Linked DNA regions of Homo sapiens: region 1 is linked to region 2. Evidence: fine-mapped expression QTL. Tissue or cell type: tibial nerve. Region 2 holds a variant in brackets; the other region holds the start of a gene. All regions are shown on one strand. Distances are between the middles of the regions.

Region 1 (8,178 bases), 26 kb after region 2:
ACTCCCACCTTGCTCCTTGGCTATAAATCTCCACTTGTCCATGCTATATTCGGAACTGAGGAAATTTGGAAGTCTATACTGAAGTCTCTTTTCCCCTACTGTAATAGTTCCTGAATAACATCTGGTTTTTGTACCACTTCAACTACTCACTAGCTCTGGTTTTCTTTGATGGTCTCTTTCTACTTTTTCATAGTTAACCCATAGTGTTAGATCAGGGATCTGTAAACTATTTGGGCCTGTGGTCTGGTTTTGTCTGGCCCATCTCAAGCAAAGAATGATTTTTAAGTTTTTACAGGGTTGTAGAAAGAAAGAAAAGAATATTATGAGACAGACCCCACAGAACCTGCTATATTTACTATCTAGTCTTTTAATGAAAATGTTTGGGCCAGGCATGGTGGCTCATGCCTATAATCCCAACACTTTGGGAGGCCAACATGGGGGGATCGCTTGAGGCCAGGAGTTCAAGACCAGCCTGGGCAACCTAGTGAGACCCTGTCTCTACAAAAAATACAAAAATTAGCCAGGTGTGGTGGCACATGCCTGTAGTCCCAGCTACTCAGGTGGCTGAGATAAGAGGATCGCTTGAGTCCAGGAGACTGAGGCTGTAGTGAGGGGTATTCACACCACTACACTCCAGCCTGGGCAACAGAGTGAGAACCTGTCTCAAAAAAAACAAAGAAACCTGTCTCAAAAAAAAAAAAAGTTTGCTTATCTCTGTGCTAGATAATTATTTGTTGATTGATGAATGGAGGATTCAGTACTGGGTCTCTGATGATCCAGAAAGATCTAATTTTGAGTTAATTAATTGCATTGAATAAGCATTAAGAAGAATGGAGAGGAATACAATTCAGCCCTGACCCTTATAGATGTATTAAAGGCAAGATTAATACATAGAAAATATTCTGGAGGATACTCTGATACTGACTATAAGTGCCAAAAGAAAAGTTTAAAAAAAAAAAAGACATTAAAGCACACAGGAATATCCCATCACATCCAAGGAAACAGGATTTAATTGGTGTAGGGGAAGTGGTGGTTAGTGACCAATATAATTAGTTGAAAGGGAAGGGGGAAGAACATTCCAGGTTGGAATAAACAAGGGAACAACCTGGAACTTTAATAGAACTGTGAACTCAAAAACAAGAAGGAATGAAGGGATGAAGAACAATAAATCCTTAAGGATTTGATCCATGTCAGCTTTCCAATAAAAGCAATCCGTGCCCTACTATCTGCATTTTTTTCAACTTCATTTTTCTGTGTAGAATTCAAACAATTCAATATTAATTTGGGTTGGGGTTAAGCTGTATGTTTGAATGAATTCCTTCAATCAGATTTCTTCTCATTCCAGATATTCATTACTCTCATAAACAGTTTTGAATAGGAAAGGTAAGAAATTTTGGCACACAGAGCCCTTAGAAAGTGTTGCAGTAGAGTTTAAAGGAAGATGCGGTCACTGATTCCTCGGGTACTTGATGGGGGTAAGCAGAGTACACCGGCATGAGAGAGACAAGTACAGAAGGGACCTGGCATAAAAGCAGGCTTTTGTTTTTAAATTTTGCCTAAGATCAGCTATACAATGGTATAAAGGAAAAGAAAGGGTCTCAGAGTCAGAAAGCCCTTGGTTTGAAGCCCAGATCTGCCATTTACTGCTTTGAGACTTTGGATAAGTCATTGCTCTTTGTGAGCCTTGGTTTCCTTCGTTCTAGGGCTAAAGTAAGGAATTCAGTAAAGCATCTGGCAGTCAGTGGGCATTTAATAAATATCTATTTCCTCCTCCTCACATGACCACATACATAGGCTATAAGAACTCAGGCTAGTACTAAAATTCAACTATACAATAAATTAAATTTTAGGGGGGCTATCAAGTCAACTTAATCATCATTTTAACTGACTTATGAACAAACTTTTTTTTTTTTTTGAGACAGAGTCTCCCTCTGTTGCCCAGGCTGGAGTGCAGTGGCGTGATCTCGGCTCACTGCTACCTCCACCTCCCAGGTTCAAGCGATTCTCCCGCCTGAGCCTTCCGAGTGGCTGAGACTACAAGCGTGCACCACCACACCCAGCTAATGTTTGAATTTTTCGTAGAGACGTGGTTTCACCATGTTGGCCAGGCTGGTCTCCAACTCCAGACCTCAAGTGATCCGCCCGCCTCAGCTTCCCAAAGTGCTGGGATTACAGGCGTGAGGTACAGTGCTTTGCCTGAACAAACATACGGTTTAGATAGTTAGATAGTTTCCTGCAATTAGGGCAGTCTTAATTCTGCATATTTCTATGCTAAATTACCATGCTCTGAAACACGCTTTGACAGCAAAAAAGCGAATGGATGCAGTAATGGAAACAATATCCAAGTTACAAAAATAAATAGCCCTGCTGTACTTAGCTCTGATTAGATCACTTCTGGGATAATACATTCAATTCAGGCACTACATATGAAACTAGAACTTATCCTGAAAATTAGGATAATTCTTTTTATTTGAGAGCTGTCACAAAGTTACTGCATTTAACCCTCACAATATCATGAAGCTGGTATGGCAGGCATGAATTCTATTTTAGAGATGTAGAAAATTGAGGCTCAGAGAAAACAGGAATGAATCTGGAAATTGAGCACAGCTATCACACACGTCCAAAATTTCATAAACCTTTAGAAAGTACTTGAAATTGGGGAAGGGTTTGGGAGGAGGGAGGGTTAAAAAACTCCCTTGAAAAACAGAGATTAGGAAGAACTATAACACTCTATCTATACACACAGATAAACACACACACTTGTGGAGGCAAAGACAGTTTGTGGAAGTCTACGTAAAGTATTGTTAGCAGTACTACTTTGAGGAGCAGAAGGGATGGACGAGGAAGACCCACTTAGTAGTTCCTTGAACTCTTGGAATTAAATTACTGCGCGCCTATACTACATAGAACACATGGCAGTTAAAGTTTTAGGCCGTCGCGCAAGAACTAGATGTATGCTGAGTGAACCCACGGAGCAGAGCACAGCCACGGAAGGGGAATGTACTATCCAGGAGCACACATTTCACTAAACGTCATTTAAAGAGCTGTCCAGCAGCGGAATATCGTCCCCAGAACCCGTGAGTTCCCGCCCTCCTGTCCTATCACTGTAGGAGGGGCCGACCAGAGGTCCGGGCTCGACCAAAGACCCCAAAGACCCTCCCAAAGCCGAACCCCCTCCTTCGAGCGCGGGGAGGGGCCGACTTGCCATTACCTCGCAGAGGGTGAAGAGTCCGTAGGCCGCCAGCCACACCGTGCAGGTGACAGCGGTGAGCGAACGCAGCGAGAGCCGAGGGCAGCTGAGGCAGAATTCCCGGCAGGACGGGGAGTAGTAGCGGCGCTGCAGCGCCAGGCGGCCGCCGCAGATATCCGAAAAGCTCCGCTCATCCTCCATGACGCCCCCACTCGGCCGCCCGCACCGCGCGGCGCTGCACTGCGCTCGCCGGCCCTGGCCGTCTCGCCCGCTCCAGACCCGCTTCCGGCAGCCGCGTCACCACGCCCCGCCCTAAGCCTGCGCAGCCTCAGTTGCGCGCCGAGAGCTCTGCTGGGGGCTGATGGTTGTGCGTTCTTCCGGGCCGGCCTTGACTGTCTTCGAAAAAACCTCGTCGGGGCAATAGTTAAGTGGAAAGATTAAAATCGTTTTTAGACCGGGCGCGTTGACTCAGGCCTGTAGTCCAGCACTGGGAGGCCAAGGCGGGAGGATCGCTTGAGCCTGGGAGGTCGAGGTTGCAGTGAGCGGAGATCATGCCCCTGCTCTCTAGCCTGTGCGAGAGAGCAAGACCCTGTCTCAAAACAAACCCACAGTTTGTTTTTGTTTTGAGACGGAATGGCGCGACGTCGGCTCACTGCAACCTGCTTCCCCCGGGTTCAAGCGATTCTCCTGCCTAAGCCTCCTGAGTAGCTGGGATTACAGGCGCGCGCCACCACGCCCTGCTGATTTTTGTATTTTTAGTAGAGACAGGTTTCACCATGTTGGCCAGGTTGGTCTCAAACTCCTGACCTCAGGTGATTCGCCCGCCTCGGCCTCCCGAAGTGCTGGGATTACAGGCGTGAGCCACCGCACCCAGCCCAAACCCACAGTTTTAATCATGCTTTTGCTTGGCAAGCCGATTTCTCTAAGCCAGAGTGAGCCGCAAGGAGAGCCCACGGGTATTCATTTCACTTACTCTTTTCCTGTGCCGGGTAGTTTGAGGTGCTTGAGGATGCAGCAGTGAACGATGTTGATGACAGTCTCTGCCCTCGGGCAGCTTCCTTTCTAGTAGGAGACAATATGGAAATAAGAGAGTATCGTTGGCAATACTATGCTGACTGGCAGGGATGGACTGAGGACTTTACATAGGGCAGTCAGGCGAAGTCTCTAAGTAAGAGGACACTGAGTTACAAGGGTGACGAGCCAGACAGGACTGAAGGAGCTCTGGAGGAGGAATTTGCCAGAAAGAAAGACCAGGAAAGGCAAACCCCTCGAAGTTGGAACAAGCTTGGCTTAATGAAATAATCAAAAGGCGAGAAAGGTTGGTGTGTGGGGAAAACAGTTGGAAGCTGGGGAGGCAGGTAGGGGTCAGATCCAAGAGGGTCTTGTAGGGTCTGGTAAGGAGTTTGGATTTCACTGCCTGGGAGTTCTGTCTCCCAAATGACTGCTTGGACCGTGGTAGACAGGCAAGACCTGGCTGGGAATTAAGCAGGAGCGGGAGATGCAGAAGAAATGGATAATAAAATTACTAAACTCATGAGTAATAGTGGCCTATGAGTTCCATTTTTACTTCTGATGTGGCCCAGGAGTGGCTATGTGGACTGTCAAAACACTTGTGATGGGCTGGGCATGGTGGCACATGCCTGTAATCTCAGCACTTTGGGAGGCTGAGGAGGGCAGATCACTTGGGTCAGGAGTTCAAGATCAGCCTGGCCAACATGGTGAAACCATCTCTACTAAAAATACAAAAAAATTACCTGGGCATGGTGGAGCATGCCTGTAATCCCAGCTGTTCGGGTGGCTGAGGCAGGAGAATCACTTGAACTTAGGAGTTCAAGACCAGCCTGGGCAACAGAGCAAGACTGTGTCTATATTCATTTAAAAAAAAAAAAAGATCCATGGCATAAAGGTCTCACCAGCTTTAAGTCTCTCTGATGAAAGGTTCCGTTTCTTCATCTTCATTCAGAATTTTATTTCCCTTTCTTTTTTCCTAAAGGATTTCTTCAAGCACTTCTTTATTTTTCTAGTTTTATTTCTGTGCCCCGAATCTGACAATTAATACACTCCTTTTATTAGTCCGTTTTCACACTGCTATAAAGAACTACCTGAGACTCGGTAATTTATAAAGAAAAGAGGTTTATTGACTCACAGTTCCACATGGCTGGCAAGGCCTCAGGAAACTTACAATAATGGTGGAAGGCAAAGGGGAAGCCAGGCATGTCTTACATGGCAGCAGGAGGGGAGTGGGGAAGTGCCACATTTTTAAACCGTCAGATCTCGTGAGAGAACTCACTCAGCATCACGAGACCAGCATGGGGGAAATCCGTCCCCATGATCCAATCACCTCCCACTGGGTCCCTCCCCTAACAAGTGGAGATTACAATTTGACATGAGATTTGGGTAGGCACAGAGAGCCGAACCATATCACCCCTTTTACTATTGCATATATCATGTGTTTTATAATTATAAAAGTGATATTTGCTTATTGTGGAAAATTTGAAAAATACAGAAAAGAAAAAAATGTAAACCACCCATATTTCCATCACTCAGAGATAAGTACTGTTAATGTTTTGGGGAAGCCTGTAGTCCTGGAGTTCTTAACTTGGGCTCCACGGATAGAATCAGTGTTTCATTTTTAGTTTCATTAACTTCTAATTAAAATTTAACATTTCTTTTGATTATGAATATGGGCAACAAACTAGTATTAGTAGAGCTTGTGATTTTTGTCACTGACAGAAATCACAGATATTTTCTTTTCACAATAATTGTTTCAAAATGTCATTTCTAGTCATTGCTACTTCAAAATTGCAGTAATTATTAAACCCATCACTAGCTATTATTATTTAATGTGTCAATAAAGAGAAACATATCACTGTAACACATTTTTAAAATATTTTGATAACCATATTTTAATTTAGTTGATTTTCTTAGAAGTCCTATGTATTTATACATTTTAAAGCATTATTATAATAAAGGGTCCATTCATTTCGCCAAACTTCCAGAGGGTCTACAATACAAAAGGTACCTGTACAGGCTAAGAAGTTTCTTTTCTTTTTCTTTCTTTCTGGTTTGTTTTGTTTTGTTTGAGGCAAGGTCTTGCTCTGTCACCGAAAGCGGAGTGCAGCAGTGGTACGGTCATGGCTCACTGCAGTCTCAACTTCCTGGGCTAAAGAGATCCTCCCACCTCAGCCCCTCAAGTATCTAGGGCTACAGGCACACTCTACCACATCAGGCTAATTTTTGCATATTTTGTAGAAATGGCATCTCACTATGTTTCCCAGGCTATTTTCAAACTCCTAGGCTCGGGTGATCCTTCGGCCTCAGCCTCCCAAAGAGTTGGGATTACAGGCATGAGTCACCATGCCCAGCAGGCTAAGAAGTTTCACAATTATAGAGTTATAGAAAGAAAAAGGCCAAATGTACTTTACTTAATTTTTTAAAAATACTCAATTATTAGGAATAAATACTGTGGTAGTCTAAGATCTCTAAAATCCTTTTTCTTTTTAGAGAGAGGGTGTTGCTCTGTTACTCAGGCTGCAGTGCAGTGGTATAATCATAACTCATTGTGACCTTGAATGCCTGGGTTGAAGCGTTCCTGTTGCCTTGGCCTCCTAAAGTGCTGGGATTGCAGGCATGAGCCACTGCACCCAGTCACTAAAATCCTTATTACTGCTTTGTGGGTTGTTTGTTTGTTTGAGACGGAGTTTTGCTCTTGTTACCCAGGCTGGAGTGCAATGGCACAATCTTGGCTCACCACAACCTCCGCATTCCAGGTTCAAGCGATTCTCCTGCTGAGGTCAGCCTCCCAAGTAGCTGGGATTACAGGCATGCGCCACCATGCCCAGCTAATTTTGTATTTTTAGTAGAGATGGGGTTTCTCCATGTTGGTCAGGCTGGTCTCAAACTCCTGACCTCAGGTGATCTGCCCGCCTCAACCTCTCAAAGTGCTGGGATTATAGGCGTGAGCCACCGCTCCCAGCCCTGCCCTTGTTTTTTGTTTTTGTTTTTTTTTTGAGACAGTCTTGCTCTGTCGCCTAGGCAAGAGTGCAGTAGCACAATCTCTACTCACTGCAACTTCCACCTCCTGGGTTCAAGCGATTCTTGTGCCTCAGCCTCCCAAGTAGCTGGGATTACAGGCGCAAAGGTTTTAGCTTTCTTACTGGGATGGATAGGCAAAGAATGTCTGTTCCATCTTTCAGAAATGGAAGTCTCCTCATCTGTCCATTTAAGGAAATGTTTTAATTGAGGTATATCCTCCAAGCAGTAAAACAGTCTGTGACTTACTTTTCCATACTCTAATGGTGTCTTTTGATGAACAGAGGTTTTAATTTTCATAAAGTCCAATTTATCAATCTTGTCTTTTATGGCTAGTGTTGTATAATATTTTGTCCTGTTTAGGAAGCTTTGCCTGTCTTGCGGGCATGGTGGCTCATGCCTATAATCCCAGCACTTTGAGAGGCTGAGCCAGGAAGATCGTTTGAGCTCAGGAGTTCCAGAACATGCTGGGCAACATAGCGAGACTCTGACTCTACCAAACAAAAAACAAAAAACAAAAAGCTGGGCATGGTGGCACAGCTACTAGGTACTAGGGAGGCTGAGGCAGAAGGGTTGCTTGAGCCCAGTAAGCCCAGCTTACTGTAGGAGGCTACAAAAAGCTGTGATCAAGCCACTGCATTCCAGCCTGGGTAACAGAGCGAGAAAAAACAAACAAAACAACAACAACAAAAAAAACTTTGCCTATCTTTTTTTTCCCTAGAAGCTTAATTATTTTACCTTTCATATTTAAGCCAATGATCCATTTTGAACTAATTTTTGTTTGTAGAGGTTAAGGGTCATTTTGTTTCCCAGCAGCACGTGTTGAAAAGACTACCCTTCCCCCCTAATTGAGATAGTGCCTTTGTTGTAAATAGGTGACCACAAATTTCTCGGTCTATTTCCACACTCTCTATTATGTTCTGTTGTTCTATTTTGTCTTCCCTTGTGCTAATAGC
Region 2 (8,178 bases):
TTAATACCTAAAGCTTTCCTCCAATAATAATTTAGTCTGTGTCCCTGTTTTTCTCTAAAATGAATGTTGCCATGAACATCACTGTGCACATATATCTTTGGGAACTTATATCTACATGTGTCTGTAGGACAGAGTTCTAGAGGTGGGATTTCTGGGCAAATTATATACATGTTTTAATTTTTGACAGGTACTGCCAAATTACCTTCTAAAAATGCCTTACACACTAGAGTTTTTTCCCCCATCTTCTCCCCATACTCTCACCAACACTGAGATAGTCAGTCACTTTAAATGTTTGCCAATGGAGATGCAATCATTGATTGTTGCGACGTCCCCACACATTTTTAAAGCTCGCATGGCACACTTAGTCTGTGGTGTAGCTTTCTGGCCCCCTAGTGGCAAGGAGCGAGGGTCACAGTGGGCAGGCATTCAGTCGTGATGGGCAGCTGCTTTGGGGACCACAGAAGATGGTGTGTGGGAAGGGAGGCCTGAGAAGCATGGAGGTCATGACACAGGAGTGAGGCCAGGAGGGACCTTACACTGGACAGTTGTCTGTTCAGAGTCCCGGCTGGGGGTTGGCCACACCATGGGCACTTGGACCAGGAGTGCAAGCTGCAGGGTTGGGAGAGGACTGTTTTGCAGCCTGAGCTGCAGTGAGGGAGGGGCCTGTCTTGCAGAGAGCTACACAGATCAGCAACATGCCCTTTATGGACGAGTCCTCTGGGTCTGACGATGACTGCAGCTCTCAGGCGAGTTTCCGAATCTCGGTCCCCTCCTCTGAGTCCAGGAAGACCAGCGGACTAGGCAGCCCCCGGGCCATCAAGAGAGGTACAGAGAAGGGGAGCAGGGGCAGGGTGCAGCAGCAAGGAGCCCCTCACCTCTTCCCATGGGCACTTGAACATGGGCGTCCCCACTTGATCTGAGCTCGTGACCCCCCAGCAGCTCCACCCCCAGCCCCAGAGACCGGGTCCCGGGTGGGTGGTCAAGTCTCAGCAGCTCCTGGGCTGCGTGAGTCGGGGAGGTGTGGGACCCGGGCCTTGACTCCTCCTCCCTCGGCAAGGCGTCTCCATGTCCTCACTGAGCTCCGAGGGTGACTACGCCATCCCCCCGGACGCCTGCTCACTGGACAGTGACTACTCAGAGCCTGAGCACAAACTGCAGCGCACCTCATCCTACTCCACCGACGGGCTGGGCCTGGGCGGGGTGAGCCGGGAAACGGGCGGGGGCAGGGTGGAAGCAGAATGCAGCAGAGGCTGCTGGGGCCCTCAGCACAAGACATAGGCAGTAGCTGCCTGAAGTGAGGGGTCCCTAGAGCTGGGGGATGGGGGCAGGGGGCGTGGGCTGGGGGGGTGTACAGTTATGGAGTCAGACACACAGACCCCACAAGGAAGGAAGGAGGGAGCCCAGAGAGCTCCTGGAATACCAGCAATGGCCAGTTACTGAGAGCCTACTGTGGCCCACCAGGCCCCATGAAGAGTTTTCCATATATGACTTTGTTTTATCACCTGGAATACTAACGCAAGCTAACATTTATTGAACTCTTGGCACCAGGCACTGTGCTCAGTTTCCAGGCATTGTCTCATTTGTCCTCACAATCCTCTTGGGGTCATTAGCCCATCTTATGGATGAGAAGCCTGAGGCTCCAAGCTGTGCCACTACATGCCAGGGCTAGCATCCACTCCCGATGTAATTCCGCATCCCTCGCCCCACACCTCTCTGCTGCCCCATCATCTCCCTGGCTCCATGACCCTCCAGTCCTGCCTGGCTGATGTGTCCAGGTTGCCCAGACCTGCCTTGCCCTCTCCCTGCTCTGTGCTGCCTGGAATGGTCTTCTTCCTCCTCTCAGTCTTTGAGGGAGAGGCTGAACTATCCTAACAAGGCCAGCTCAGGGCCGGCTCTCTCCTGACGCTCTCCCTGGCCAGGCTCTCCCTCTAGCAGCCCCTGCTCTGCTACCTTCTCATAGTGAGGTCTTCCCCAGCTAGCATGGGAGCCCTTCCTTGGCAGGACCACCCATGTTTTATTTAGTCCTCTCTGAACCATAGCAGGGCATGGTACTCTGAAAATACACTGAGTAGGTACTCAATAATTTTGTATTTAATTGATGACCGAGTAGTGAGGCAGCTGGACCACTTGGACCTGTGTGATGTCTAGGAGCCCTGAGTGATTTCCCCTTTCTTCATCTACACCCTTCCACCCCTCAGGAGTCACTGGAGAAGTCGGGCTACCTGCTGAAAATGGGGAGCCAGGTGAAGACGTGGAAGAGGCGCTGGTTTGTCCTGAGACAGGGACAGATTATGTACTACAAGTCCCCGGTGAGAGTCTCCCCGCCCAGCACTGCAGTCAAAAGGTCTCCACATCACACCCTGGACTATGTCAGATGGGACGGAGGAGGGGGAATGTGGCCCAAGGCCAGAGGGCAAAGGTCTGGCAGGTGGGGAGAGGCAACCTCACTGGGCCCCTGAGGCTTTGAGCCACACTTGGGGACCTAAGCCTGGCCGTGAGTTTCAGAATGAAATAGGGAGGTTCTCAGAAGGACCCATGTTCCTGATTAAGGTTCCATTTAGCTATAACCAGAATCTAGAATAAGTCACCCATCATAACACAGCCAGAATGCTGGGAATCATGTTTCCCTTTGCTTATGACGTGGAGGAAGATCTGAGGGTAAATGAGGTGCTCCGGAAAGGCTCCACATTCAGTGGCTCTCCTCTCCAATACTTTCTTTACAGAGTGATGTCATCCGGAAACCTCAAGGCCAAGTGGATCTGAACTCCCGCTGCCAAATTGTTCGAGGGGAGGGTTCACAGACGTTTCAGGTGAGCACGCTCCTGGCTGCTAGTATTTTAAACAGAAGAGGTGCTGGGTTTGGATATGGCCGTGAGTGAGACAAAGATGGGGCCAAATGAGCATGAATGAAAGACTTCAGATCAACATTTGGACGTGATCCTAACTTGTGAGTACAAGAAAGGAAGATGAGACAGAATATGAGAGATGGAGTGAAGGAAGGAGAGACAGGGAGGAAAAGATGAGGAGGAAAAGAAAGGAGGGAGCACTAGGGCAGGCAGAAGGCCAGCCCCTTGGGTTCAGGGACAGGTGCCACCTCGGAGCCAGGTCCTGGTTACTCCATTCTCCCAGC[G/A]TGCTGCCCCACCCCCATATCTCGCCCTCCACAGCTCATCTCTGAGAAGAAAACCTACTACCTGACGGCCGATTCACCCAGCCTGCTGGAGGAGTGGATCCGAGTACTCCAGAGCCTGCTGAAGGTGCAGGCCACCGGGCCTCCAGCTCTGCTTCGGGGTGGCACCAAGCCCACCGTGAAGGGCTGGCTGACCAAGGTAGAGGGTGGGGCTGATAGGGCAGGAACATGTGCCTCCTGCGAATCAGGGGAGCCAGGATTGGGGTGCCGAGGGTGGTGGGTTCCCCCTTATACGGGGCTCCTTTCTCTGGGAGCCTCCTCACAGTGACTCGCTGGCCAGCCCTCAAACGTGGTCTGGCCACACAAGGTGATGGCGAGTGATTCCCCGGAAACAAATCAGGGTTGTTGGAACAACTATTCTCAAGAAAGAGAAGGGAAGGGACTATCTTGTATCCATTTTGAGGTCATTAGGGGCTGTCACCCACCCCCACCTTATACCTGCCTCAGTGTTAATAGTGGGAGGAAGAGGCCTGGGCGAGGTAGGTATGGCTCCTCAAAGACTTAAAGTATCCCAGGCCTGCCCTAAAGACATTTTTGTTAGGGCTCTTCTGGTTGAACAGAGCAGAGAAGCAGTTGTTAAACCCAAGAAAATGGAAGTTAACAAGGAAGTACATTAGCTAGACCAGAACACCAGCAGGAACCAAAGCGACTTGCACTCAGCAAGCTCAGGGCTGGCAGGCTCGCTGTGTGGCTCTGCTTCTCGTTCAATCTGTTTATGTCATTCTCCTTCGCCCGTGTGCAGCTTCTGTTCCTTCATGATGCATGGTTGCCCAAGGGCTTCAGCCTGCTGTTTTCCCTCCCTCCCTCCCGGCACCCTGACAACTGTGGCTTCTGCCACCTAGCAAGTTCTTCCTATTTTCATATGCCTGGAGGGGACATCTGATTGGCCTGGCTAATCGTTTCATGGCAGGTCATAGGTCACTGAATAGCCCATGATGGCTGGGGTGCCACAGGGTGTCATGGCACCCTCACTGTGAAAGGGGTGGTTCCATTAGTAGGGAGCCCAAATGGCATCTCCATCTCTACCATAGGTCAAATCTGTCTCCCTGTGGCTTCTATTTGCCAGTCCTGGATTTACTTCTAGAGTTACCTAGTTCTCATAATGCCAGTTCATTTCTGTCTTACAGGTAAAGCATGGCCACTCCAAGGTGGTCTGGTGCGCTCTTGTTGGGAAAATCTTCTACTACTATCGGAGCCATGAGGACAAGGTACTTCTCAGCCTCCTCACAATACCCACTCTCCTGCTTCCCCCGAAGCACATGACTGCCACTCTATGTCCTGATGAAAGTCCCTACCCCACGTAACCCCACAATAAATACAAAATCAGTTGGCTGGATCCCTCCAGAGTGTGAGATTCTGCCTGTCTGGGTCTCTGGTGCTTCTCCAAGCAAGCCTCATTCTGCTGCCAGCCTGGCTGGGATGCTATAGTCTCCACCTCCCCATCCTGTCATCGGTCCATATCCACGATTCCCAGCTTCACGGAGCCTATGTATTCAGAGAGAGGAGACTCCCTCATCCCCCACTGGCTCTCCCATTCATGGAAGACTGCTGTCCACAGCGACCCCTGGGCTGCCTGCCTGTGCGGGATGCGCACATAGAGGAAGTAGATCGATCCTGTGACTCAGACGAGGACTATGAGGCTGGAGGAACCAGACGGTTGCTTTCCTCCCACTGCACCCTGGTGATCCACCCCACAGAGCACAGCCCCACCTACCTCCTCATTGGCACCAAGCATGAAAAGGTAAGGAAGAGGGCTGGGCCTCCAGGGCCAAGCTTGGACCTGTGATTCTGATCTTCCCTTCTCTCTTTCTCCTGAGCTTCCCAAAATTCAAATTTATTTCCTTTTGGACACTTTGGCAACTAATATTCTCTGAATGGGAATATTCCTTTATACTGAATTTATTCCCAGTGACCAACATTGCTTCACTGAGGTCATGTAATAGAATCGCAAATTTGGAAAGTTGGGTTCATGTTCACCTGATCCTCAGTCTTTCCAGGTAGCCCTGACTCATGCCAACCAAACTAGCTGAACCCCACATGGGCTTGGTCCCTTCAAGGAGTCCTCCTTGGAGCTCTTGCCTCCACTCTTCCCACCCCGTCCCCATCCGATGGCTTTCCGCCCTCTTCCAGGATACGTGGCTCTACCACCTCACAGTGGCTGCAGGTGGCAGCAGTGCCAAGGTGGGCACTGCCTATGAGCAGCTCATTGGAAAACTGATGGATGGTGAAGGAGATCCAGGTAAGGCAAGGGTGGCCACCACTGCTTGGGTTGGAGGGTAGTGGCTTGGTGACTATTGGTCAAGATCCCAAAGAAAGCAGTGTTGTACCCTGAAGCTGTTTTTAAAACATCTAAGCCACAGAGGGGAAGTTCCCATCCAAGCTCCAGGGCCCCTCTGTCTCCGGCTGAGATACTAAGGTGACCACTCTGCATCTGGGGGAGTTTATCTGGGAAGCAGGCTTTCCAGGGACCTGGGTAAATGTTTTACTTGGATCAAGCTGCCCCGTTGCTGGCTGGGCAGAGGGCTGAGGAAAGAAGGTAGCTGGTTAATCTATAGTTAGAGTTTGTAAATCAACAAGTGAAGCCTAAATTGGGATCGGACTAACCTGTTTGGAGTCTTTCTTTTGCTACTGATTATCAGGGCCCTGAGGAACTAATTAATGGCATATACCACACACACCCCTTTACTACTGCTCTGAGGCTTGTTTGTTTCTGACCAATTCATATGCCCCTCCATCCAGACTTGACACAGTAAGAAAGAGGCCTCCCCTGCACACATCCACCTGCACTCAGACACCCACAACCTTGCACACTCACCCCTACTGCCATTCCACGAGAAAGGCCATGCTTATATGAGGGTGCTCATTGCAGTGCCCACCTGTACACCCCACACTCTATGGATGATAAACCCAGCACAACCCAAGTGTTGACGGAAGATAAACCACTATCTTCCCCATAAATTAAAGATGGCGGTGAGTGGGAGATGAGTCCCCTCTCAGTAGTAACTGCCCTTGCTCTCTGGTTCCGTGCTTTGGGCAGATTCGCCGCTCTGGAGGCACCCCATGCTGTGCTACAGCAAAGACGGCCTATACGCCTCCCTCACCACCCTGCCCTCTGAGGCCTTGCAGACGGAGGCCCTCAAGCTCTTCAAGGTAAATTGGGGTGGCGGCCAGGCCCACCGCTGGGATACTTGCAATACTTGGGTGGAGAAGGCCTGTGCAGTTGGGGACAACCCACAGAGGGATCTGGAGAGGAAGGGAAGGAAACTTCCCAGGGTCCCTATCACTTCCTGGATGGCAGGAATGTAATCCTGTCACTGGGAGGGAAGCAGCTCTGGAACGTCATGCACAAGTCCTTGGGAAATGCCAATGAAAACTCTCCCTGGAGGAGCTCCCCTCCTCCTGTAGTTAAGCAGAAAAGGCGAGGTTTATGTTGCTTCTGGACTGAGAGATTCGGACCTATTTTAGCATGTCCTTTGTGAATGTTTGAGTTTTCTGTTTTTGTTTTTGTTTTTTTTAAGGAATTTGTCTTGTTTATGTAATGTAATGAGAACATTTTAAAAAGGAAACTTCTATCCCAAAGTAGCCCATAGCCCCTTTTAGTAAGCAGAGATGCCCTCCAACAGTAGCAGTGCTCCCTCTTAGAAAGGGCTGTCAGTAAACTCTAACCTCCCTGGAGCCCTTGGAAAATGGCCAAGCCGTTGAGTTCTCTGAACCCAGGGGATGCTGGTCTGCCTGTGCTCACTGCTGTTCCCTCCCAGTCCTGCCAGCTCTTCATCAACGTGCCGGTGGAAGCTGCCTCGGTGGACTACCATGTGTCCCTGGCCCAGACCGCACTGCAGGTCTGCCTGGTTCACCCCGAGCTGCAGAGTGAGATCTACTGCCAACTCATGAAGCAGACCAGCTGCCGCCCACCTCAGAAGTACTCCCTCATGCAGGTAGGCATGCCAGGGGTGGAGCAGCTGACAGAAGCCATTGGCAAGGGCTGCCAGGTGGGAAAGGTGGGAGGAGGTGACTGGGCAGGTATACGGTGAGCCCAGCCAGCGGGCAGCCTCTGTGCTCCAAGCTGCATCAGTACGGCTGAGCTGTCTATGCACAGATGGGTGATTGCATTCTGGACACAGCCTGACCAAGTTGGCCATCCCAGCACCCAGAGCAAGTTGGGGGCTCTGGTTTGGGGAAAGAGTGCTGAAGGCTCTGTAGCTCAGGGCTATGAGGACAGGTGGTGCTGTAGGCCCAGCACTCACCCCACGCTGTCTGTGTCCCTGGCAGTGCTGGCAGCTCCTCGCTCTGTGTGCTCCACTTTTCCTGCCTCAGCATCACTTCCTCTGGTATGTCAAGCAGCAGCTCCAACGCCATGCAGATCCCAGGTGAGTGAACCTGGCCGTTTCCTCTGCCACTTGAGCACTGCCAACTGCCGCATGAATAAGAGGGATGAGAGGAGTCTAGGGCAGACCAGATCACTCCTGTCCTCTGAAACCGCTCAGTGGTCGTGGAGACTTCACCCATTGCCGTGTGCACAAATGGGCACGTGTGGATCTGGGCATGCTTAAGCTTCTCTGCACGCCAATCCATGTATCCACGGATGTACTGTGGCAACTCTCACATGAAGCCACACTGCTCCCAAACTGTCCCCAAGTGCTATTCTGTTGTTATGTCCTCTGGGTTCTAGAAGAAAATATCCATGCCAGCAACCTGCTATATAAAGGTCCTGAATGACAAATTAATGTCCCAGACCAGAGTCTTCAGGGCTTTTCTCACAACCTGCCCCAGCTACAGTTTTGGTCCTGGCTGAGTCTAGATAGGGATCCGGGGTGCCAAAGTGGCAGAGATGAGCAGAGCCCATAATACTCCCCTCTTCCGTCTTTTTAGAAGTGAAACTGGCCAGTATGCCACCTACTGCCAGCGGGCAGTGGAGCGGACCCTGCGGACCGGGGAGCGGGAAGCCAGGCCATCGCGCATGGAAGTGGTGTCCATCCTGCTGCGTAACCCCT

The links. PIP is the estimated chance that this variant, and not a neighbour inherited with it, causes the effect.
Region 1: it holds the start of PIGH, and the variant in region 2 is fine-mapped to the expression of PIGH in tibial nerve (GTEx, PIP 0.91).

What each region holds. Positions count from the first base shown.
Region 1 is chr14:67,596,813-67,604,990 of GRCh38, forward strand. PIGH (phosphatidylinositol glycan anchor biosynthesis class H) reads right to left here and starts at 3,456. Exons shown (of 4, transcript NM_004569.5): 1 at 3,212-3,456. The coding sequence starts at 3,391. It also overlaps a transcript of GPHN not described here. RefSeq lists an enhancer at 3,134-3,453.
Region 2 is chr14:67,571,078-67,579,255 of GRCh38, forward strand. It overlaps PLEKHH1 (pleckstrin homology, MyTH4 and FERM domain containing H1), which reads left to right. Exons shown (of 29, transcript NM_020715.3): 10 at 675-825; 11 at 1,058-1,200; 12 at 2,199-2,309; 13 at 2,724-2,810; 14 at 3,165-3,326; 15 at 4,315-4,395; 16 at 4,746-4,928; 17 at 5,318-5,426; 18 at 6,225-6,337; 19 at 6,946-7,122; 20 at 7,457-7,554; 21 at 8,057-8,178. It also overlaps a transcript of GPHN not described here. Among named protein-coding and RNA genes, the nearest start is that of PIGH, 25 kb to the right of the region's middle. RefSeq lists an enhancer at 390-569. The variant G/A (reference allele first, on the strand shown) is at 3,131.